2 separate regions of the Homo sapiens genome follow, and region 2 is linked to region 1. The links come from fine-mapping of genetic effects on gene expression. Tissue or cell type: whole blood. Region 1 holds a variant in brackets; the other region holds the start of a gene. All regions are shown on one strand. Distances are from middle to middle. Region 1 overlaps LOC105370777 (a long non-coding RNA gene). Region 2 holds the start of THBS1 (thrombospondin 1).

Region 1 (8,411 bases):
TTTTTTGACTTTTATATTCCACGTCAGCCTCATTTCTCCTCCAGCCTTCTACATTGCCCGGTGGCATGAACTCTGGGAAGGAAGTTTGGTATTACCTCAAGCAAATATCATAAAAGGTTGAGGCAAGATTTGTGGATAGGAAGCCTGGTTATGAGAAATCAGGTTTTAAAAGGTCAGATAATTGCTCAGAGAGGAATGAAGGAGTGACCAAATCAATGGCACTTAGGAAAGTGGCCTAAGAAAGGGTCCTTTTCCACAGGGAGATGGCTACCTCTCCTCCTGTTTATTACACCATGTGGCTGATGAGTCTTTATTTCCATTTGGAAACAGAAGTCAAATTCAGAGTCACAGGTGAGATAATAGTAAAACAGTGCATTATATTTATACTTGCCTTTTATTGTCGAAGATATTGCATATTTATTATACCTTTTTGAGCTAGTTTAATGAAGTGGAAAGAGCTAAATGATCTGATAAAATCAGCTAGTGCATCTCTCACTGGAGCATCTTGAGGATCGAATGAAATGATGTTACAGTTCTTACAGTTTTTATCAAGCTGAAAACTTTGCAAGGGTCCCTTAAATTCACTGAGCTTTGATAGCTTGGGGTTAGGTAGCAACTGGACAATCTCTACCTTTCTCACTCTAATGTTTGTTATTCTTATAAACTTTGGTTGGTAAGTAGAGTTGGATTTTTTAAAAAAATTATTTCACTAAAGAGGAACTGGAGCAAAGAAATAAAGTGAGTGGCCTCACCAACTGAGGAGGAAAATCTGAACAGTCCAATACTTTCCCCACAGCTGTGCTTCCCTCATAGGTGTTAGAAGCTGATGGGGCCAGCTGTGGCCCATGAGAAAGGCCCTGTGGCCCCAGACATGGACAATCATTCACTTCATACAAATTACTTTAGAGTAGAGAACAGTAAATTGAGACCCCAGATTCACCATACGGGAGCTCTGATCTCAAAGAGAAGTTACCAAAGCTGCTTCCCTGGGTGAAATGGAAATTCCTGGAGGTCTAAGCTGCTGGTATGTATGAAGAGCTGTATGGCACATGGGCAAGAAGGAAGAATGGCTTCCCAGAGAAGGCAAGACTTACCAGTCATGCAGGAAATGGTGCTCAGAGAAATTTAAGCTTTGTATTTTGATTCAATTTTATTTTCCTTTAAAACAAGTGATTCTTATTTCAAACTATAGATTGCTTTGATAATTTGATGAAGATGAATAGGGTCATTTTAGAAAAATGCACTTCGAACCATCAACCATCATGTATTTTTGCAAATAATTTCAGTGGATAAGAAAATCCCCTAAAGACCATATGTTGGCCTCTTAAGTCTTGGTCCAGAAGTTTTATCAACCACAATAATAGTGGGACTCCATTCTCAAAAATTCTGATTCATCAGATATTAGAGAGTTAGTCCCAGGATTCCAAATTTTTAATAAGCACTCAAGAGAATTCTGGTTTAAGTGAGCTGGACCAAACACTGAGAAGCATTGTCATAGGGATCTCTGGCTCCTAGTTAAAAGGCATTGCCTCAGACTGCCTTAGAGCTCCAATGTTTCTGTATATATTTTCAAAATTAATTATTATCTTTCTCAATTTCACTCTATAAAGAAAACTCAAGTTCCCCATCAAATGAATTAGCCATTTTGGAGCAAAAATCAAAAGAAAGGAAAGAAGATTTTTGTTTTGACTGAGCCAGTTTGGCTGGCTTCCTATCCTGGCATCATCAGTTGAGTATTAAATTTCCAAGTCACTGGGTGACAGTATGCCTGGCTTCATCCCAGTATGGGCATTCATCAGCTGCATTGTACAGTAAGTACAGTAAGAACTGTCTTGTAAGAACGGGCTAGACTTAGTGAGACAATCCTGGTTTGTTCTGAAGAGCATAATCAAATGAGTGATTGCAAATGGAAATTGAGATCAGAGCCAGAAAAGGGGTCTTGAGCAGCAGATTTGTGATCAAGGCAATGCTGCCCAAAGAGGGCAAATTGAGCTCTCAGGAGGACTAACATTCAGGAAAACGTTAGGTAATGGGGCTTGAGTTGGATGAAGGCAAGCAGTTCAGGATGGAGGCTGTGATAAAGATGTTAGTCTTATCAAATACTGGCCAGTTTAAACACATTAGACTTGACTGGACAAAAAATGTTCTACATGGACATTCACTGATGAACCCTTATTACATAGAAGTCCAAGAAATAAAAGTTCATGGATGGTAAAATATGTCCATCTTATTTCTGATGATCATTTTTTGACAGTGAATTTACATAGAAATGATGAATAGCTCTATGTAGTTTTCATTGGTAATATTCTTTATTAGGGTATTATCTAGTTCAGTGGTTGGAAAACTTTACATAGACAGGGTAGAAAATTTTAGACTTTGTGACCTATCATACTGTCTCCATTATAAATTCATTTTTAATAATCCTTTAATAATGTAAAAATTCTTAGCTTTCAGGAAGTACAAAAACAAGGCAAGAACTGGATTTGGCCCTAAAGCTATGGTTTGCTGACCCTCTTATAGATTATCTCAACAGTAGAGTTATTTTCTATTTACATAGTATTTGGTGTTCTCTGATAGGAAATATAGGTCAGTGGAAGAACAGCTATATTTATTTAAGTTTCTCATGGAGGATATATCCCCTTCCTTATTTACTGAAAGGAGGGCTTAATACCATAAGCATGAGAAGTGGTGTTTTCTAAGCCTGAGTCCTCCTGTAGCCATCTAATATTAAAACCTGTAAGGAAAGAGTTGGATTTCAACTTGGTTTCTTTTGATCTATAAATTCAGGTATGATGGTGGTCTGGCCCTTTTGGGCTCTAAATTTAGCAATTAGCTTACTTTTGTTTATGTTTAACTACAATAAGCACCTTCTGGATTATCTGGATCTGGATTATCGGGATCATTATTTTATTGCCTGTGTACTAAAATGAGATTTAAGTCCAAGTAGACATTTGAACATAAGATTATTTGGGTTCCAGTAGGACTGCTTTAACTGTTTCCACATAATGAGACTAAAACAAACATAAACTTCATAATGGCCAAATGATGCCAACAGACAGTTTGGAAGGACTTTATCAGAGAAAACATTGATTGGATATTGAGTCATTGCATAACACATGGTCTATATAGTACAAAACTAGATAGATCTTGTAACATAGCTGTCAGCTCCTTATCCTCCCTGGAGCAGAAGAGGTTCAATTTTAGTCAAACAGTATGTTGGTCACATTTGATTAATGCTTTTAATTTGAATTTCAGTGATGGCACATTTAATTTGTAAATATGCATAAAGCTTGTTCAGTTATGAATATATGTGTGTGTATGCAGTTTAAGTTACCTCTAGGAGTGTTAGGAGATGGTCATAGTGGTCAACGTATAAATAAGGGCCAAGAACAAGGTGGTTGCAGTTAAGGTGGTTAAAGCAGGTCTGTGGTGATCCACAGGAGGCCATTCAGTGTCGTAGAGAGACGCCCCTTCCTAAGGCAGGTGCAGCCTGGAGCCAGGGCTCAAGGCCTTGCCAGCAGTGATTGGCTGGGTTTTAGCCTTGTTCACCCCCTCAGCTGAGCACTGTTGTTCAGGGGTATGTTCCTGTCCTAAGTAAGAGGGGGTGTGATTTAAGAGATAATATAG[G/A]GTAATAATCTTTGGGACTTAGTCAATTAAGTCTGGAGATGAAGAATTATTTCCTAACTTCCTCATTGACTGTTTTAAAACAATCCTCACTAAGCCACGTGGCTTTGGTGATGATTGTTTTAAAACAATATCTGATTTACTGAATCTTTCAGAAAAATTGAAATAACTGATATGAATTTTTCACAAGCTTTGATACAGTTAAGAAAAACAAAATGTAAGAAAAGAATATTGAAAGGGCTAAGCAACAGCAGCAATAGACTTGGGCAGGAGGTATGCGCACTACAAACTCGAGACCTGTGGACTTAGGCACTTCCTCTTTGCCATAGGTGTGCTTATTGGGGGTGTCATGGGCATGAGTCCACAGTGCCCTCTACTGCCTCCCAGTAGGTCTGTTCTAACATGCAACAGCTTGGTGGTCTCTTGTCCCCAGAATGAAGCAACTTTTTAAAAAAATTTATAATTATTTTATTTTATACTTTAAGTTCTGGGGTGCATGTGCAGAACATGCAGGTTTGTTACATAGGTATACACGAGCCATGGAGGTTTGCTGCACCCATCAACCCATCATCTACATTAGGTATTTCTCCTAATGCTGTCCCTCCGCTAGCCCCTCACCCTGGTGTGTGATGTTCCCCTCCCTGTGTCCATATGTTCTCATTGTTCAACTCCTACTTATGAGTGAGAACATGCAGTTTCTGGTTTTCTGTTCTGTTAGTTTGCTGAGGATGATGGTTCCAGCTTCATCCATGTCCCTGCAAAGGACATGAACTCATCCTTTTTTTATGGCTGCTTAGTATTCCATGATATATATGTGCCATATTTTCTTTATCCAGTCTATCATCGATGGGCATTTGGGTTGGTTCCAAGTCTTTGCTATTGTGAATAGTGCCGCAGTAAACATACATGTGCATGTGTCTTTATAGTAGAATGATTTGTAATCCTTTGGGTATATATCCAGTAATGGGATTGCTGAGTCAAATAGTATTTCTGGTTCTAGATCCTTGAAGAATCGCCACACTGTCTTCCACAATGGTTAAACTAATTTACACTCCCACCAACAGTGTAAAAGCATTCCTATTTCTCCATATCCTCTTGGCTAAAATCAAGTGTAGTATCTGTTCTTATCAGTTTAATGGAGCAACTTTTAAAGGGAGTTTCCTTCTAGGTGGACCCGTCACTATGGTGCAGAGAAGCAGGGAATGACTGGGTGGAACTGCAGGGCTGCTTCAGTGGGCAGGGAGAGTGCATCAGGGGAACCATGCAGAATGCTGGGCTACTCATCTGCCTCTCCATTTCACAGGAGAAACAGAGAGCTGTTGGTTTGATTGACTTAAATGGATTTTTATTTATTTAATTTATAGTAAGTGCCGCGTATTGCTAGGCCTTGCAAAGTCAAGGGTATCAGGAATATAAGAGGACTGAAAGCAATATTCCTCGTGCTTCCAGAGCAGATGCCTAACCGGGGAGGCAGAGCTCAAGTGTGGTACACTGAGAACGCCTAGGATGCAAACACAGGTGGATTTGTTTATTACTAAAGCGGCACAGGGAAACTTCTCAGAGTGAGAACATATTTTGTCAGTAGGAGGAGCGCCACATAAGATGAAATCAGACTGCACACATGCATGAGGGTTTTCTGTTTAACTTGGGGGTGAAGATGAACTTTCAAAGGGGCCTTAGAGGCAGGTATATTACATCCATATTTTTGAGTATGAAGAAGAAGGGGCAAGCAATACTTAGTGGAAACAAGACAAAATTCAGAGATAAGAGTGCAAGTGGAGTTCAAACATAGTAAGAAGAGAGGTTAATGGTATCTATCTCCCAGCAGGCAGAACACCACCACACTCCTGGGAAATGTTTCCCCAGGCACCGGAGTATGGAGGTGTGCTCTCCCCATTAGTAGGGGGTTCTTAGTATTGAGCCAGGCTTTTGCTTGCTTGAGGCCTGATTACTGTAATACTTGGTCTAATTCTTTTCGACTTGGGCCACAGGCTTAGGCATTGCTGAGCAGCTGCTGTGTGTTTTTGTCCTCTAGCAATGGTGAGCACTTTAGCCTTGATATACTGGAGCCTAAAAACATATGGCAACAGCTCTCAATCAATGTCCTGGAGCTCTCAATCAAGTTGATGTTTTGTTTGGTTGTGTTAAAAATGGATTTGGCCGGCACTATGGTTCACACCTGTAATCCCAGCACTTTGGGAGGCCGAGGTGGGTGGGTCATGAGGTCAGGAGATCGAGCCCAGCCTGGCCAACATGGTAAAACCCCGTCTCTACTCAAAATACAAAAATTAGCTGGGTGTGGTGGCGGGCGCCTGTAATCCCAGCTACTTGGGAGGTTGAGGCAGGAGAATCATTTGAACCTGGGAGGTGGAGGTGGTTGTAGTGAGCCGAGATTGTGACATTGCACTCCGGCCTGGGCAACAGGGCGAGACTCCATCTCAAAACAAAATAAATAAAAAAGGATTTAAGGATAGTTTTCATGGCATCCTTTCCCCATAATTGCAGATATTAAATGCAGCCTAAGAACAAGTGTTAAAACATCCTCAGAGACAGTTTAGTAGTGAAACACCCAAGTCTTTCTGACATTAATAGGCTTTAGTGGGATTAGCTTAGTAATAGTTACATAATGTGTGATTCGTGGCAATGAAAATGCTAAAAGGGCCAATTATTGCATCATAATGGACACACCTTTAACATAAAGATACATTTGTCATTTTGTGGTGTTCATCTATATTTAAATGAAGGATACGAATCATCATTGTAATGGCAACTTTAGCTGTCAGGGATCCTGTTGCAGCTCTGCCTCAGCCAGTCTGTGCACAGAGCATGGAGCACCAGGGCCATGGAGCATGTGGGCTATGGAATCGGGTTGCCTATTTTCATCTTGACTCCATCACTTGCTGGGCAACCTTGAGTAAGTGGCTTAACCATTTTCTGAGCCTCAATTTCTTCACCTATAAAGTGGGGGTCATACTAGTGTGTCCCTGTAATTATGGGGATTAATGGAGATAACATGTGAATCACACATAGCAATGTTAGGCATAAAGTAAGTGCCTAAGGAGTATCGGTTTCTTTAGTGTTGGATTTGTTGCCATCTTGAGCTCCGTGTATCCAGAATTTAAAATGGAGATCATTCTTCCCAGCAATGTTTTAAAACTTGTAGAGCTGAGTTCTTCTAGGAAGACAGAGTAAAAGGACACCATTTCAGAAGAATTATTGTATCTCAGGAACCTAGGGCCTAAGCTGGTCATGGCCTCTATTTCTGCTGTCTAACACACATTCCAGTTGTGTCCAAGTTTTCTTCCTCCACCTCCAGGAACATCCACATATTAGGAGGCCTAAATTGAATTGTCATCATTATTTTGCCAAGGCTACCACTCCAACTCAAAATTCATTAGTACCAAGGGCCTTAGTCTGAAAATCTGACATGAATCTTTTTGGTAAAAGAGAATCTTTGAGATGTTTTCTTTGATGGCCTCAGGCTGGGGCAGTAACATGTGTCTGAGTCCTCCTCAGTTCGAGGTGGGCCAAATATAAGATACTTGTGGATGTCGGCCAGACTGAAGTGAGGATTATTCTGGGTAATCCTGATCATGGGGTCACATCCCATTCCTTTCACCGTTGGAGTTTAGCAGACATCTACATTTGGGTAGAGTTTTATTCTCACTACATAGTGGACAGCTCTTCTGTCTGCCCACAGGCAGACTTTGCTGGTTCTGAATGCTTGAAAGGTTTGACTTTGCAGTCTGCTTCTGCTGAGGATTTCCTACTCCTGAGCCCTAGAACACTCAGATGTTAAGATGCCAGAAAGATGAGGAAACAATAAAGAAAACTGAGAAGCAACCAGTCAAAGGAGGAAGATAAAACCCTAGGAGAGTGTAGGATCCAGGAGGCCAAGGGAAAAAAGCGTTTTGAGAATCAGAGAGGGGTCAAGGACATCAAATGCTGCTAATGGATAAAGTAAGAATGAAGACTAAACATCATTCGTTGTTGGCAATATTGATTATATTAGTTTGGTGCATTAGTTTTATTCTCCCTTTAATTATAAAATCTCCATGGCATTAATTATTATGCTTTTTTTTTTTTTTTTTTTTGCAAACCAAGAAGCTAAGATTCAAGATATATAAACTGTCCAGATTCACAAAGATGGGGAAAAGTCGCAGAATTGAGGTCTGCACTCAGGTTTTCTGACCATGATTTTCCTTATCTCTGATACCACATATTTATACTTTGGTTTAACTTTAAATCATAGATTTCCTTTTCCTAGGAAATAACATTTTAAGACTCATTATACATTGTGTATATAAGATTTTGTTCAACTTTTAAACTTATAAGTATCAGGAATCTGATGGGGATAGTATTTTTAGAAAACTCCTACCCTGGCTGGGAATCAAGCTAGGCCTGTGCATGACCACCTTCAACATTTGGCCCTTCTAAGAATCTCTGGATATTTTGTGGAAAGTAGAATGGGAAGAGAAAAACATGAAAAGTAGAGACCTGATACGTCCTCAAGCGTAGTCCTCTCCCAGATCATGTTTAGCTAGCTTCCCCTGAAGAGACTTCTGAGCAAGTCAACATGTATCGGCCAGGGTCATTCAGCATTCTGGGCAATGGCACAGGCATTAATTCTGGGACAGATTAACTCAAAGATTATTGAAGAAACAAGACCTAGGTATAGAATCAGATTCTGTTGTTTCTATTTTGCTGTAAGAAAGCACTTGTATGTAGACTATGTCAGGATTACCTCAATTCTATCCACTGCTCACTTAGTTTAAGATTATTTTAAG
Region 2 (8,411 bases), 270 kb before region 1:
TCCCTGGATGGAATTGGTTATTCTGAGCTGTGACAAGGGTGTGTTTGTGTGTGTGTGCATGTGTGTTTCTGTGTGTGTGAAGGGCAAGTGCTGTTTTCCTGTTTTCTTCCTTATCTTAGTTGTAATGAATCACTTTTATAACTTGTACCTGCTACACTAAGTATTGTCTCAGCAAAGTCATTCATTTTACTGGTAACAAAAGCCAGGGATAACGTGCCATGGAACGATATCGTGCCTTATTTCTTTTGGTGCTCTAGAGCTCAGATTGCTGCTATTCTCTTAGGCCCTCTTATCCCTACAGATGAAAGGGGCAAAACTTCCAGGCCCGATCAGGCCAATGCTTACACAGTAAGCCTGTCAATATCTCTGGTGAGCAGATTTTTCTTAACTCTGTGCCACTAAGGTCAAATTCTAAAAGCAGTCAACTTAGAGCTGTTGCTGCCACGTCTTCATCTCTTTTCCTCAAAGCAAAAAATCAGAATTAATGAGCTATACCAAGATCTTCACTGCCATTACTGCAATCCAGATGGGTAATTACGATGTACTCATAATGGAGTTTTGGCTCTGTACAGCAGATAAGCTGTCAGTTAACCAGCTGCTGCAGCAAGAAACTGAATGGAAGCATGATGGAGATGGGGGTGGGGTTCCAGTGTTGTGCTCGGCTGTCTAGGATGTATGTAGAACTGACCTAGTCACTGAAGAATAGCTATGCCATTTGAGAAACTTACGCCAACAGCGAGGACAGCATTCTCCATCAGGAACTGTGGCATTGGAGCAGGGCATGATGGGGCAGGACACCTTTTTGCAGATGGTAACTGAGTTCTGCAGGGCAAGAGAGTGAGAGGGGAACAGGCTGCTGAGCATGTTGCATACAGAAGTCTACATCCTGTAACATTTCCTTTACAAGCCAAAACATGGTCAGGGCTGTCAATGCTCTAGTGGAATGATTTTCATAGATCTGTCTCTGTCATATTTGCAGCCACCACTATCGTAGAGACAGTTCTAGTGCTAGTTTACGTGTCACTCCATTCCTTGGAAAGTTCTTTTTAATTGCTACTTAGTCAAGGGTGGAAGTTACAGTACAAAGAATTTATAGCAGAGGAACCAACAAACATCATGGGTCAAATCTATGTCTGAAATCAAACTCAGAAAATTCAGCCAGGACTTTTACATTTTTATATTATGTGTTTGGGGGGAGGAAGGAAGATCTATAAGCACTTTTTCCTCATCTATAGATCTGTGATCTGTCTTTATATTGGAAAAGAAAGGGAATTTAATGAAGTTGGTTCCCACAGCCAGTCATCTGTGATTTGTATTTAAGCAAATTCAAATACTTTGCTATTAATAGATAAGCCAGGTGAACCTCCAAACTCACTGGCCACTGGCATGCGGGGATGCTAGAGTGAATCACACACCTGGCAGTGCCATCTGAGCAAAGCAGACAGTAACATCCTAACAGTGTCAGACTAAGTGATTTGAAAAACAATTGCTACTGTACTAAAAGAACCTATGCCAAAGCTGAATATAAATCAGGGTTGGGAAAAAAAAATGAATGTTCCAACCAGGTTTTATTTACCTGACATTCAACACTTAGTCTTTGAACTAAGGTAGGTAAATTATTCAGATGTCTTAGTAGATTCATTCTCTTAGATACTTAGCCTGGGGTATAATTAATACTTTGATAAACCATCTGAGAGTTTAAAGAAGAACTTATAGATGCCATAATTGCATCTTAAAGAAAAAAAAAACACTTTGTTATCAGGCCATGGAACATAAAAAGAATCTCTGTGGCGATTAGGGTATTTCCCCAAAGATGTAGGTTCAAACAAAAGCCGTCGATTCTTATTCTGGCTGGTGAAGGTCCCTTACCTGACAGTGACACTCAGTGCAGCTATCAACAGTCCATTCCTCGTTATTTCTGTACTGAACTCCGTTGTGATAGCATAGGGGAGGCCGCCTCAGCTCATTGGCCAACTCTTTGTTCTCTTCAGTCTAAATGGGAGAGAATATCATTAGTGTCCCCCCGCATTTTCAGTCATTTGGGACCATCTGCGATAAACCTTCCAGGGTTCATGCTAACGGGCTGGGTGCAGAGGCCACTGACCACTTTGCGGATGCTGTCCTGCAGCGTGGTCACAATGGTGCGCAGGCCCCTGAGTTCCAGGACCATGCTGGACAGCTCATCACAGGAGATGCCGCAGATGGCTTGCAAGTCCTTTGTCTTGTGGCCAATGTAGTTAGTGCGGATGGCAGGGCTGGAACCATTCACCACGTTGTTGTCAAGGGTGAGGAGGACACTGGTAGCTGGCAAGAAACAAAATGAAAACTTCAAATAGATACTCTTACCAACCAGCCTCTTGAGTTCTTAGTGGTAGAAGACGTTTCATTTGGTGTGAAGGATGCAGGTAGAGGGGTTGCGTGTATGCGCACGTGTGTATACGTGTGTGTGTATAATACCCCTTGGAGTCACTTCTGTATGCCTCTTGATGATCTCACTGGGGGTAATTTATGTATAACCACTATTGCTAAATTCCTCAGTTTGTTTTTGGTGGAATTCCCCCTGATTCCCTATGTGCCCTAAAAATAGAGGGGTACTCACAGCTGGAGCAGCCTTTGTTCCTGAGGATGTCTTCTGGTGTGGTTCCAAAGACAAACCTCACATTCTGCAGCACCCCCTGTGGGCAGAGGACACACATTACTTGTAGAATGCAGAGCGGGGTGGGGATGGGGTTGGGGGAGACTGTCTGTATGCTAGGAAAAGCATACAATAGATGTTCTAAAAGCTTCAAAGAGCTGTCTTAAGATCACTATGTCAAAATAACACAGCAACATTAATCGCCAAACAACTTCAAAATCTTAATTGTGACTTCTGCCAAGTCTTGAGTATTTTACAAAGAATTCAGTTATCAGCCTACTTGGGTACACAGGAAATGGAATCTGATCCTAAGCCTAGAGGATATAATGACACTTTCCAGTGTCAAAGAGTTAAATGTGGGAGTTCAAAGCCACCGTTGCAAAGATCTAGAAGTTAAGGCACAGATGAAGCTGTAACAGCAACAACTAACTGCTATTTTAACCTTTTATGTGAGACCAGCTGCATCCCCATGAGGAATCCAATAGCAAAGTGGTACTGATTCTGCCCATAGAAAGTATCCATTTCAAACAAGATTAAAATTGGGGGAATGCATTTGAAATAAGCTCTTTTCTTAAGAGCCTAAGGAGTATCTAAGGCTTGAACAGGCTGACTGCTAAAGGAAAACCATTTCTTGTTTCCTTGAGTAGTTTTCAAAGTGTGCTTCCCAGACCACCGGCATCAGCATCACCTGGTACTTGTTAGAGTTGCAGTTTTACAGAATCCCAGACTCTGGGGCTGGGGTGCAGCAGGGTGAGCTTTCACAAGCCCTCCAGGTGATGCTCATGCTGCCTAAAATCTGAGAACTGCTGCGTTAGTTTACAGACAGGATTTCCTGTAGCCCTCCTGGCAGGTCACCTGTCTAGCAGATGATCCCACGGAGCAGGGCTCAGAGAAGAAGCCTCACCTGGAAATTGTCATTGACGCCCCCCTTTGCGATGCGGAGTCTGGCGATGCTGGCCAGGTCTCTGGTGAAGACGCTTTGGATGGGGACGTCCAACTCAGCATTCTCCATCTTTTCACAGTCGATGTACAGCTGGGCCCTGTCTTCCTGCACAAACAGGGTGATGCTCTTCCACTGGCCGGTTGCCAGGAGAGCTTCTTCCACAGACACCACGTGCTGCTTTCCTTGGACGGTCAGGCTGAGGTCCAGGGTGCCCGCCTTGCCATTGGACACCACGCTGAAGACCTGGCCAGAGTGGTCTTTCCGCTCCAGGGCCAGCAGCGTGCCCCGGGTCTTCTTCATCTGCCTCAGGGATGCCAGAAGGAGGAAACCCTTTTCTGCCCGCACAGCATCCACCAGGTCTTGGAACTTGTCATCAGGCACAGGGGGGATCAGGTTGGCATCCTCGATGCGGAAAGCTGGGCTGGAAGGGTCGGGGCCCTTCACCAGTCGGCGCCCAGACCCCTTGCGGGCGGCCCCGGTGAGTTCAAAGATGTCAAACACGCTGTTGTCTCCGCCAGACTCTGTTAGACAGGAGAGAACACAAAGTGAGCTTTCTAGGCTGGGACCAGCAGTAGGGGGCTGAGTCCTTAGGGGTGGAGACAAAGGGTTGGGGTGAAAACTCCTGGCAACCACTGAAAGAGGTGAATAAATACCAGGATCAGAGTGAAGCTGCGTCCTGATGTCCAGTCAGGCTCAAGAGGGAGAGGACAGCACGTGAGGGGGCACACCTGGGATAGCCAGCACCTCTTCCTTGTCCCTCCTTCCCCTAAAGGTGCCACACAAACTCACCTGGAATGCGGTTGGTGCCACACACATGCATCAGGAACAGGACGCCTAGTCCCCAGGCCAGCCCCATGGTGGAGCTGTTGGTGCCCAGCAGGGATCCTGTAGCAGGAAGCACAAGAGCCGAGGGTCAGAGATCAGCTAGGCAGGGAGGGACGGTGCGCAGAAACGGGGCTGGGCATGGGGACAGGGCCGGGACCATCCCTCTTTGACCCCGCGTTTGCTGAAATGAAGGACAACAGGATTACTTTCCAGAGAGCATGAGAGAGAGAGAGAGAGAGAGAGAGAGAGGTGGAGGAAAGAGATGCTGGTTTTAAAGTGTGGGGGGCGCAAGACCAACAATTTGGGGGCTTTTGGGAAGTCGAAGGTGAGCAAGATCAGGAACTGTAGTTTGGGGTTGCAGGGAGGGCAGGGGAAGTACAGACTCTTCCCTGGAGTGCTGATACAAAGGCTTAAGGAGGACTTCAGAGAGTAAGGAAATCTTGGGGTGTCCTGATGAGTTGGTTTGTGAACCTCAAGGCTGGAGAGGATGGCTCTGGAGCCTTGCCCTGAAGAGTCCTCCAGCGGCTGAGAGGAGCGGGCTGGGGTAGGCGAGCGGGGAGAGTGTAGGTTCCGGGGTCCACCAGAGGGACTGAAGCCTCAGCGCTCCAGGTGGATGTCCCGGGCAGCTTTGGTCCTCGGCGGCCGCCGGGGGCGACTTACCTGTGTGTACCGGAGCGCGGCGGCCGGGAGCGGTGGCGAGGGCGGCGAGGGCTGGAGGGGCGCGGGGAATGCCTGTGCGTCCGGAGTAGAGGTTGCTCCTGGAGAGCGACAGGAGCCCTGAACTCGCAGGCCAGCTCGGGCGCAGCGGCTGGCAAGGCGGAGGAGCCGCGCGCTTTTAAAGGGGCGCTCGCATTCCTGGGGATTCCTCCGGCCAATGGGCGGCGGCCGGGCAGGAAGCGGGAGGTGGGGGCCAGTCTGGGCTCCTCTCTCCGCCCCCCGCTGCCTGGCGCGCAACTTTCCAGCTAGAAAGTGAAGGGGGCGGGGGTCGGGGCTTGGGAGCACTAGAACTTCTCAGAAAAGTCGGTGCCCGCCCACGCAGCCTTGGCGCGCACGGGCTCGGCGCTCGTACTCTTGCGCCACGCGGGCTCGGGGTGATCAGCAAGCATCCCGAAAAGGGACGGGGCTGGGGAGACCACCTAGGAGGGCCCGCGGGGTGGCGCAGGGGCTTTCGGGCGAGCTGATCTCCCGGAATGCCTGGTTGATGGCGAGAGGTGGATACTAGAGACTGGGCCCGTTTTGTAAAAAGAAAAATGGGCCGACGGGGCGCAGGGGACACCAAGAGAGCCATTCGTTAAAGTACCTGCCCCTCGGGCCCTCGCTGACTCTCCTCCACCGTCCCCGTGGGGTGAGGACACGCGTCCCCCGAGCGCCTGTCCTGAGCTGGCCCCACGCCCGCCCCGGAGGGAGGTGAGCGCGGCGTCGGCGGGGCCGGCAGGTTGGTGCGCCGCGTTCGCCTTCGCTGCCTTCGGGCCCTTTCCTGCCGCGGCTGCCAGGGGGCCCACAGAGACGCCTCTCCCGCTGCCGCGGCGCTCCCTCGGCCGGCCGCTTGGGGGCGGTGTGCGTATTCTCATCAAGGGGCCCGGGGAGGACAGCTGCTTTCTACTCGAATTTTAAGGAAACTTACTCGTATCCAGTTTCCACAAGCCAAATTGAAATTGTGTCTTGAAAAACAGTTTTTGTGCCCACTCGTGCTTCTTAACGTGACTCCTGTTTGGAGAATTTGCAGAACCATCTGGCTCCAGAGTCTTCAGCTATTTACAGAGCAGACCCATAGAGTAATAAATTACTCTCTGCCTATTATTGTATTTCCCTTTTTCCTCCCTAAACGTTCTTTTCATTTTTCGGCTCCTGAACCCGAGGTGTGGGTTACATTTCTGTGGGTGCACACATTGCCATGAGTGCCGCTGCCTAGTGCTTCTGTCATTGAAGTCTGGTCTCCAAGCCACTGTCCCAAGCCAGCATGACTCTAGCTTCCTGGAATTCCATTCATCTCTTCGGGATGGGACGTCAGCCGCCTCGCTCCCTCTGCTGTGATCCAGCGCTATCGGGCTCGCTCCGAGGCCAGGGCATAGGTAGAAGCTTGACCAAATAAGGATCTCAGCACGGGCAGGGGGAAACCCCTGGGGTTCACCTCCCATCTTAGCACTTAAACCTGGCAGGACTCCCGACTGCTGCAAACAGCCAAGTGTTTACATTCATCAAACAGCAGTTTCGCTTTTCTTGCGTGGGAGTGTTGTATGACAAGATGGTGTGTGTGTGTGTGTGTGTGTGTGTGTATTACGGAAAGAGTGTTTTCTAGTTACTCAATATGTATATAAAATGCCTCTAAAAGATGACCGGTATGTTCCTAAGGCACATGTTTGTTGGATTTCAGATGTTGGGAGGCAGAAAGAAAAGTTTCTACTGGTTGATGAATAAAATCAGATTCTTGTCCCGCAAATCATAGGTAATGATTCATCCAAGCAGATCTGAAGATTCTGGAATCGGCACCCATCCATCTCCCTCCCCTTCCTTCTCCTTCTACAGCATTCATCTTGCTCTTCGAAAAGTAATTGGGTTTTTTTTTTCTTCTTTCCACTTGCTCCATGATACTGGACAGTCAGAAATAGTTCTTGGAGGGATGGGCCGCTCATGGCTCTGGGCTCCTCTGGCCCACTGGATCATTGTGTACAAATCAGATGGGGGCTTGAGGGCTGCAAGAGGCCCACAAAAGCAGAATGCATCTTGTATGAAAAGATTATCTCCCCTAGGCTTAGCTGTGCAGACAGAGTAGAAACCAGCACTCACTGCCCCTTCAGGATTCATGCTGCCATGGCTGAGGGATTGTAGGAATGCCTCTGCAGATTTCTTGGAACTTGGCTTCTTTCAACAAAACAAGGACAACAGTTTCCAAACTTCATCATGCTTTACCAATAAGAAGGTGACCTATACGGTGGCAGGAAAGAGCTTTCTTATTAGAGAAAGCTGACAGGTATAGGAGCTGCTTATCTCAAACACAAAGCCCTTCCTCTTATCATGATACTTCAGTTGTTCTGGGTGGAAAGGAAAGGTCATAGAAGAGGGAGTGTCTGCGCCCCTTAACAGGAATTCACCCACATTCTTGCCAGCCAACATGTGCTGCAAATATTCCCCAAACCTCATATACCTCTGTGCAGCTTTGAGAGAAGCAGGGATGGGAAAAGGGAAAAGAAAACCTATCCCCTTTAATGTGAGGGCAATAGTCCATTTTGAGTGTGTCTCTACAACCTGGAAGCACTGTGATTTTAAGGCAATCAATTAACATGGGCCGAAGTGATGGACCTTTCAGGGAGCTGGTCCAGTTCTCTTTTTTGCCAAGTTGTCATCCTTGAGGATTAGTTACTGAAAATTGTAAGGCATATGGCATTTCACCGTAGGATTTCCTTTTTCTAAGTTTCTCTAATTGGAGGTGGGATTGACCTAAATACATTGGCAGTAAGTGTGAGGAAAGGGCTGTCAGTTACAGCTAGTTTTAAAATTGCGTGTAATTAAGGAGAGCAACATAATTGAGAAAAAATATTTTGTTTATTTAGCATAGAACAGCAAGGTGGGCTGTGATTTTGTGTAGGAATTTTTTAAGTGTTGCAAATTTTCAGTAGTGGAACATTTCTTACAAGTGTGAAGCAATGAAAAATCATTGTATTCTAGAATAGTCTAAAATCATAGCATCTTCAAATTGAAGACATCATAAATTCATTTCTCTCTGAATATGTTCCCTAGATCATAATTCTAAGTTGCTTTACTTTAACTGCATCAGAGGTCAGAGCCAGGAGGAAGTTACCAACAGATTTTTCTTGTCCTTCAATCAAACACCAATTCAAGCTCTCCCTTCTCCATGAGGTGTTTTCCATCTGTTTTATGCTGTGTGTTTTAAAGCACACATTATCTCTATCATAAAACTTATCACCTAACACTCTTTATTATTTAGTTTTTAAAAATTAGCTTTTATTTTTTCACATGTAAAGACCAGAATTTTTTTTTGGTGGGGGG

What was found. PIP is the estimated chance that this variant, and not a neighbour inherited with it, causes the effect.
Region 2: it holds the start of THBS1, and the variant in region 1 is fine-mapped to the expression of THBS1 in whole blood (INTERVAL, PIP 0.98).

What each region holds. Positions count from the first base shown.
Region 1 is chr15:39,308,744-39,317,154 of GRCh38, reverse strand. All of the region lies in intron 1 of LOC105370777 (a long non-coding RNA gene), which reads left to right. Among named protein-coding and RNA genes, the nearest start is that of LINC02915, 62 kb to the right of the region's middle. The variant G/A (reference allele first, on the strand shown) is at 3,628.
Region 2 is chr15:39,577,881-39,586,291 of GRCh38, reverse strand. It overlaps THBS1 (thrombospondin 1), which reads right to left and starts at 5,213. Exons shown (of 22, transcript NM_003246.4): 1 at 5,064-5,213; 2 at 4,368-4,463; 3 at 3,540-4,099; 4 at 2,600-2,675; 5 at 2,105-2,304; 6 at 1,870-1,992; 7 at 729-822. The coding sequence starts at 4,434. LOC124903470 reads right to left here and starts at 6,485. Exons shown (of 1, transcript XM_047433405.1): 1 at 5,298-6,485. The coding sequence starts at 5,974. The coding sequence ends at 5,540. THBS1-IT1 (THBS1 intronic transcript 1) reads right to left here and starts at 166. Exons shown (of 1, transcript NR_186398.1): 1 at 1-166. RefSeq lists silencers at 5,673-5,722, 5,733-5,962 and an enhancer at 5,385-6,122.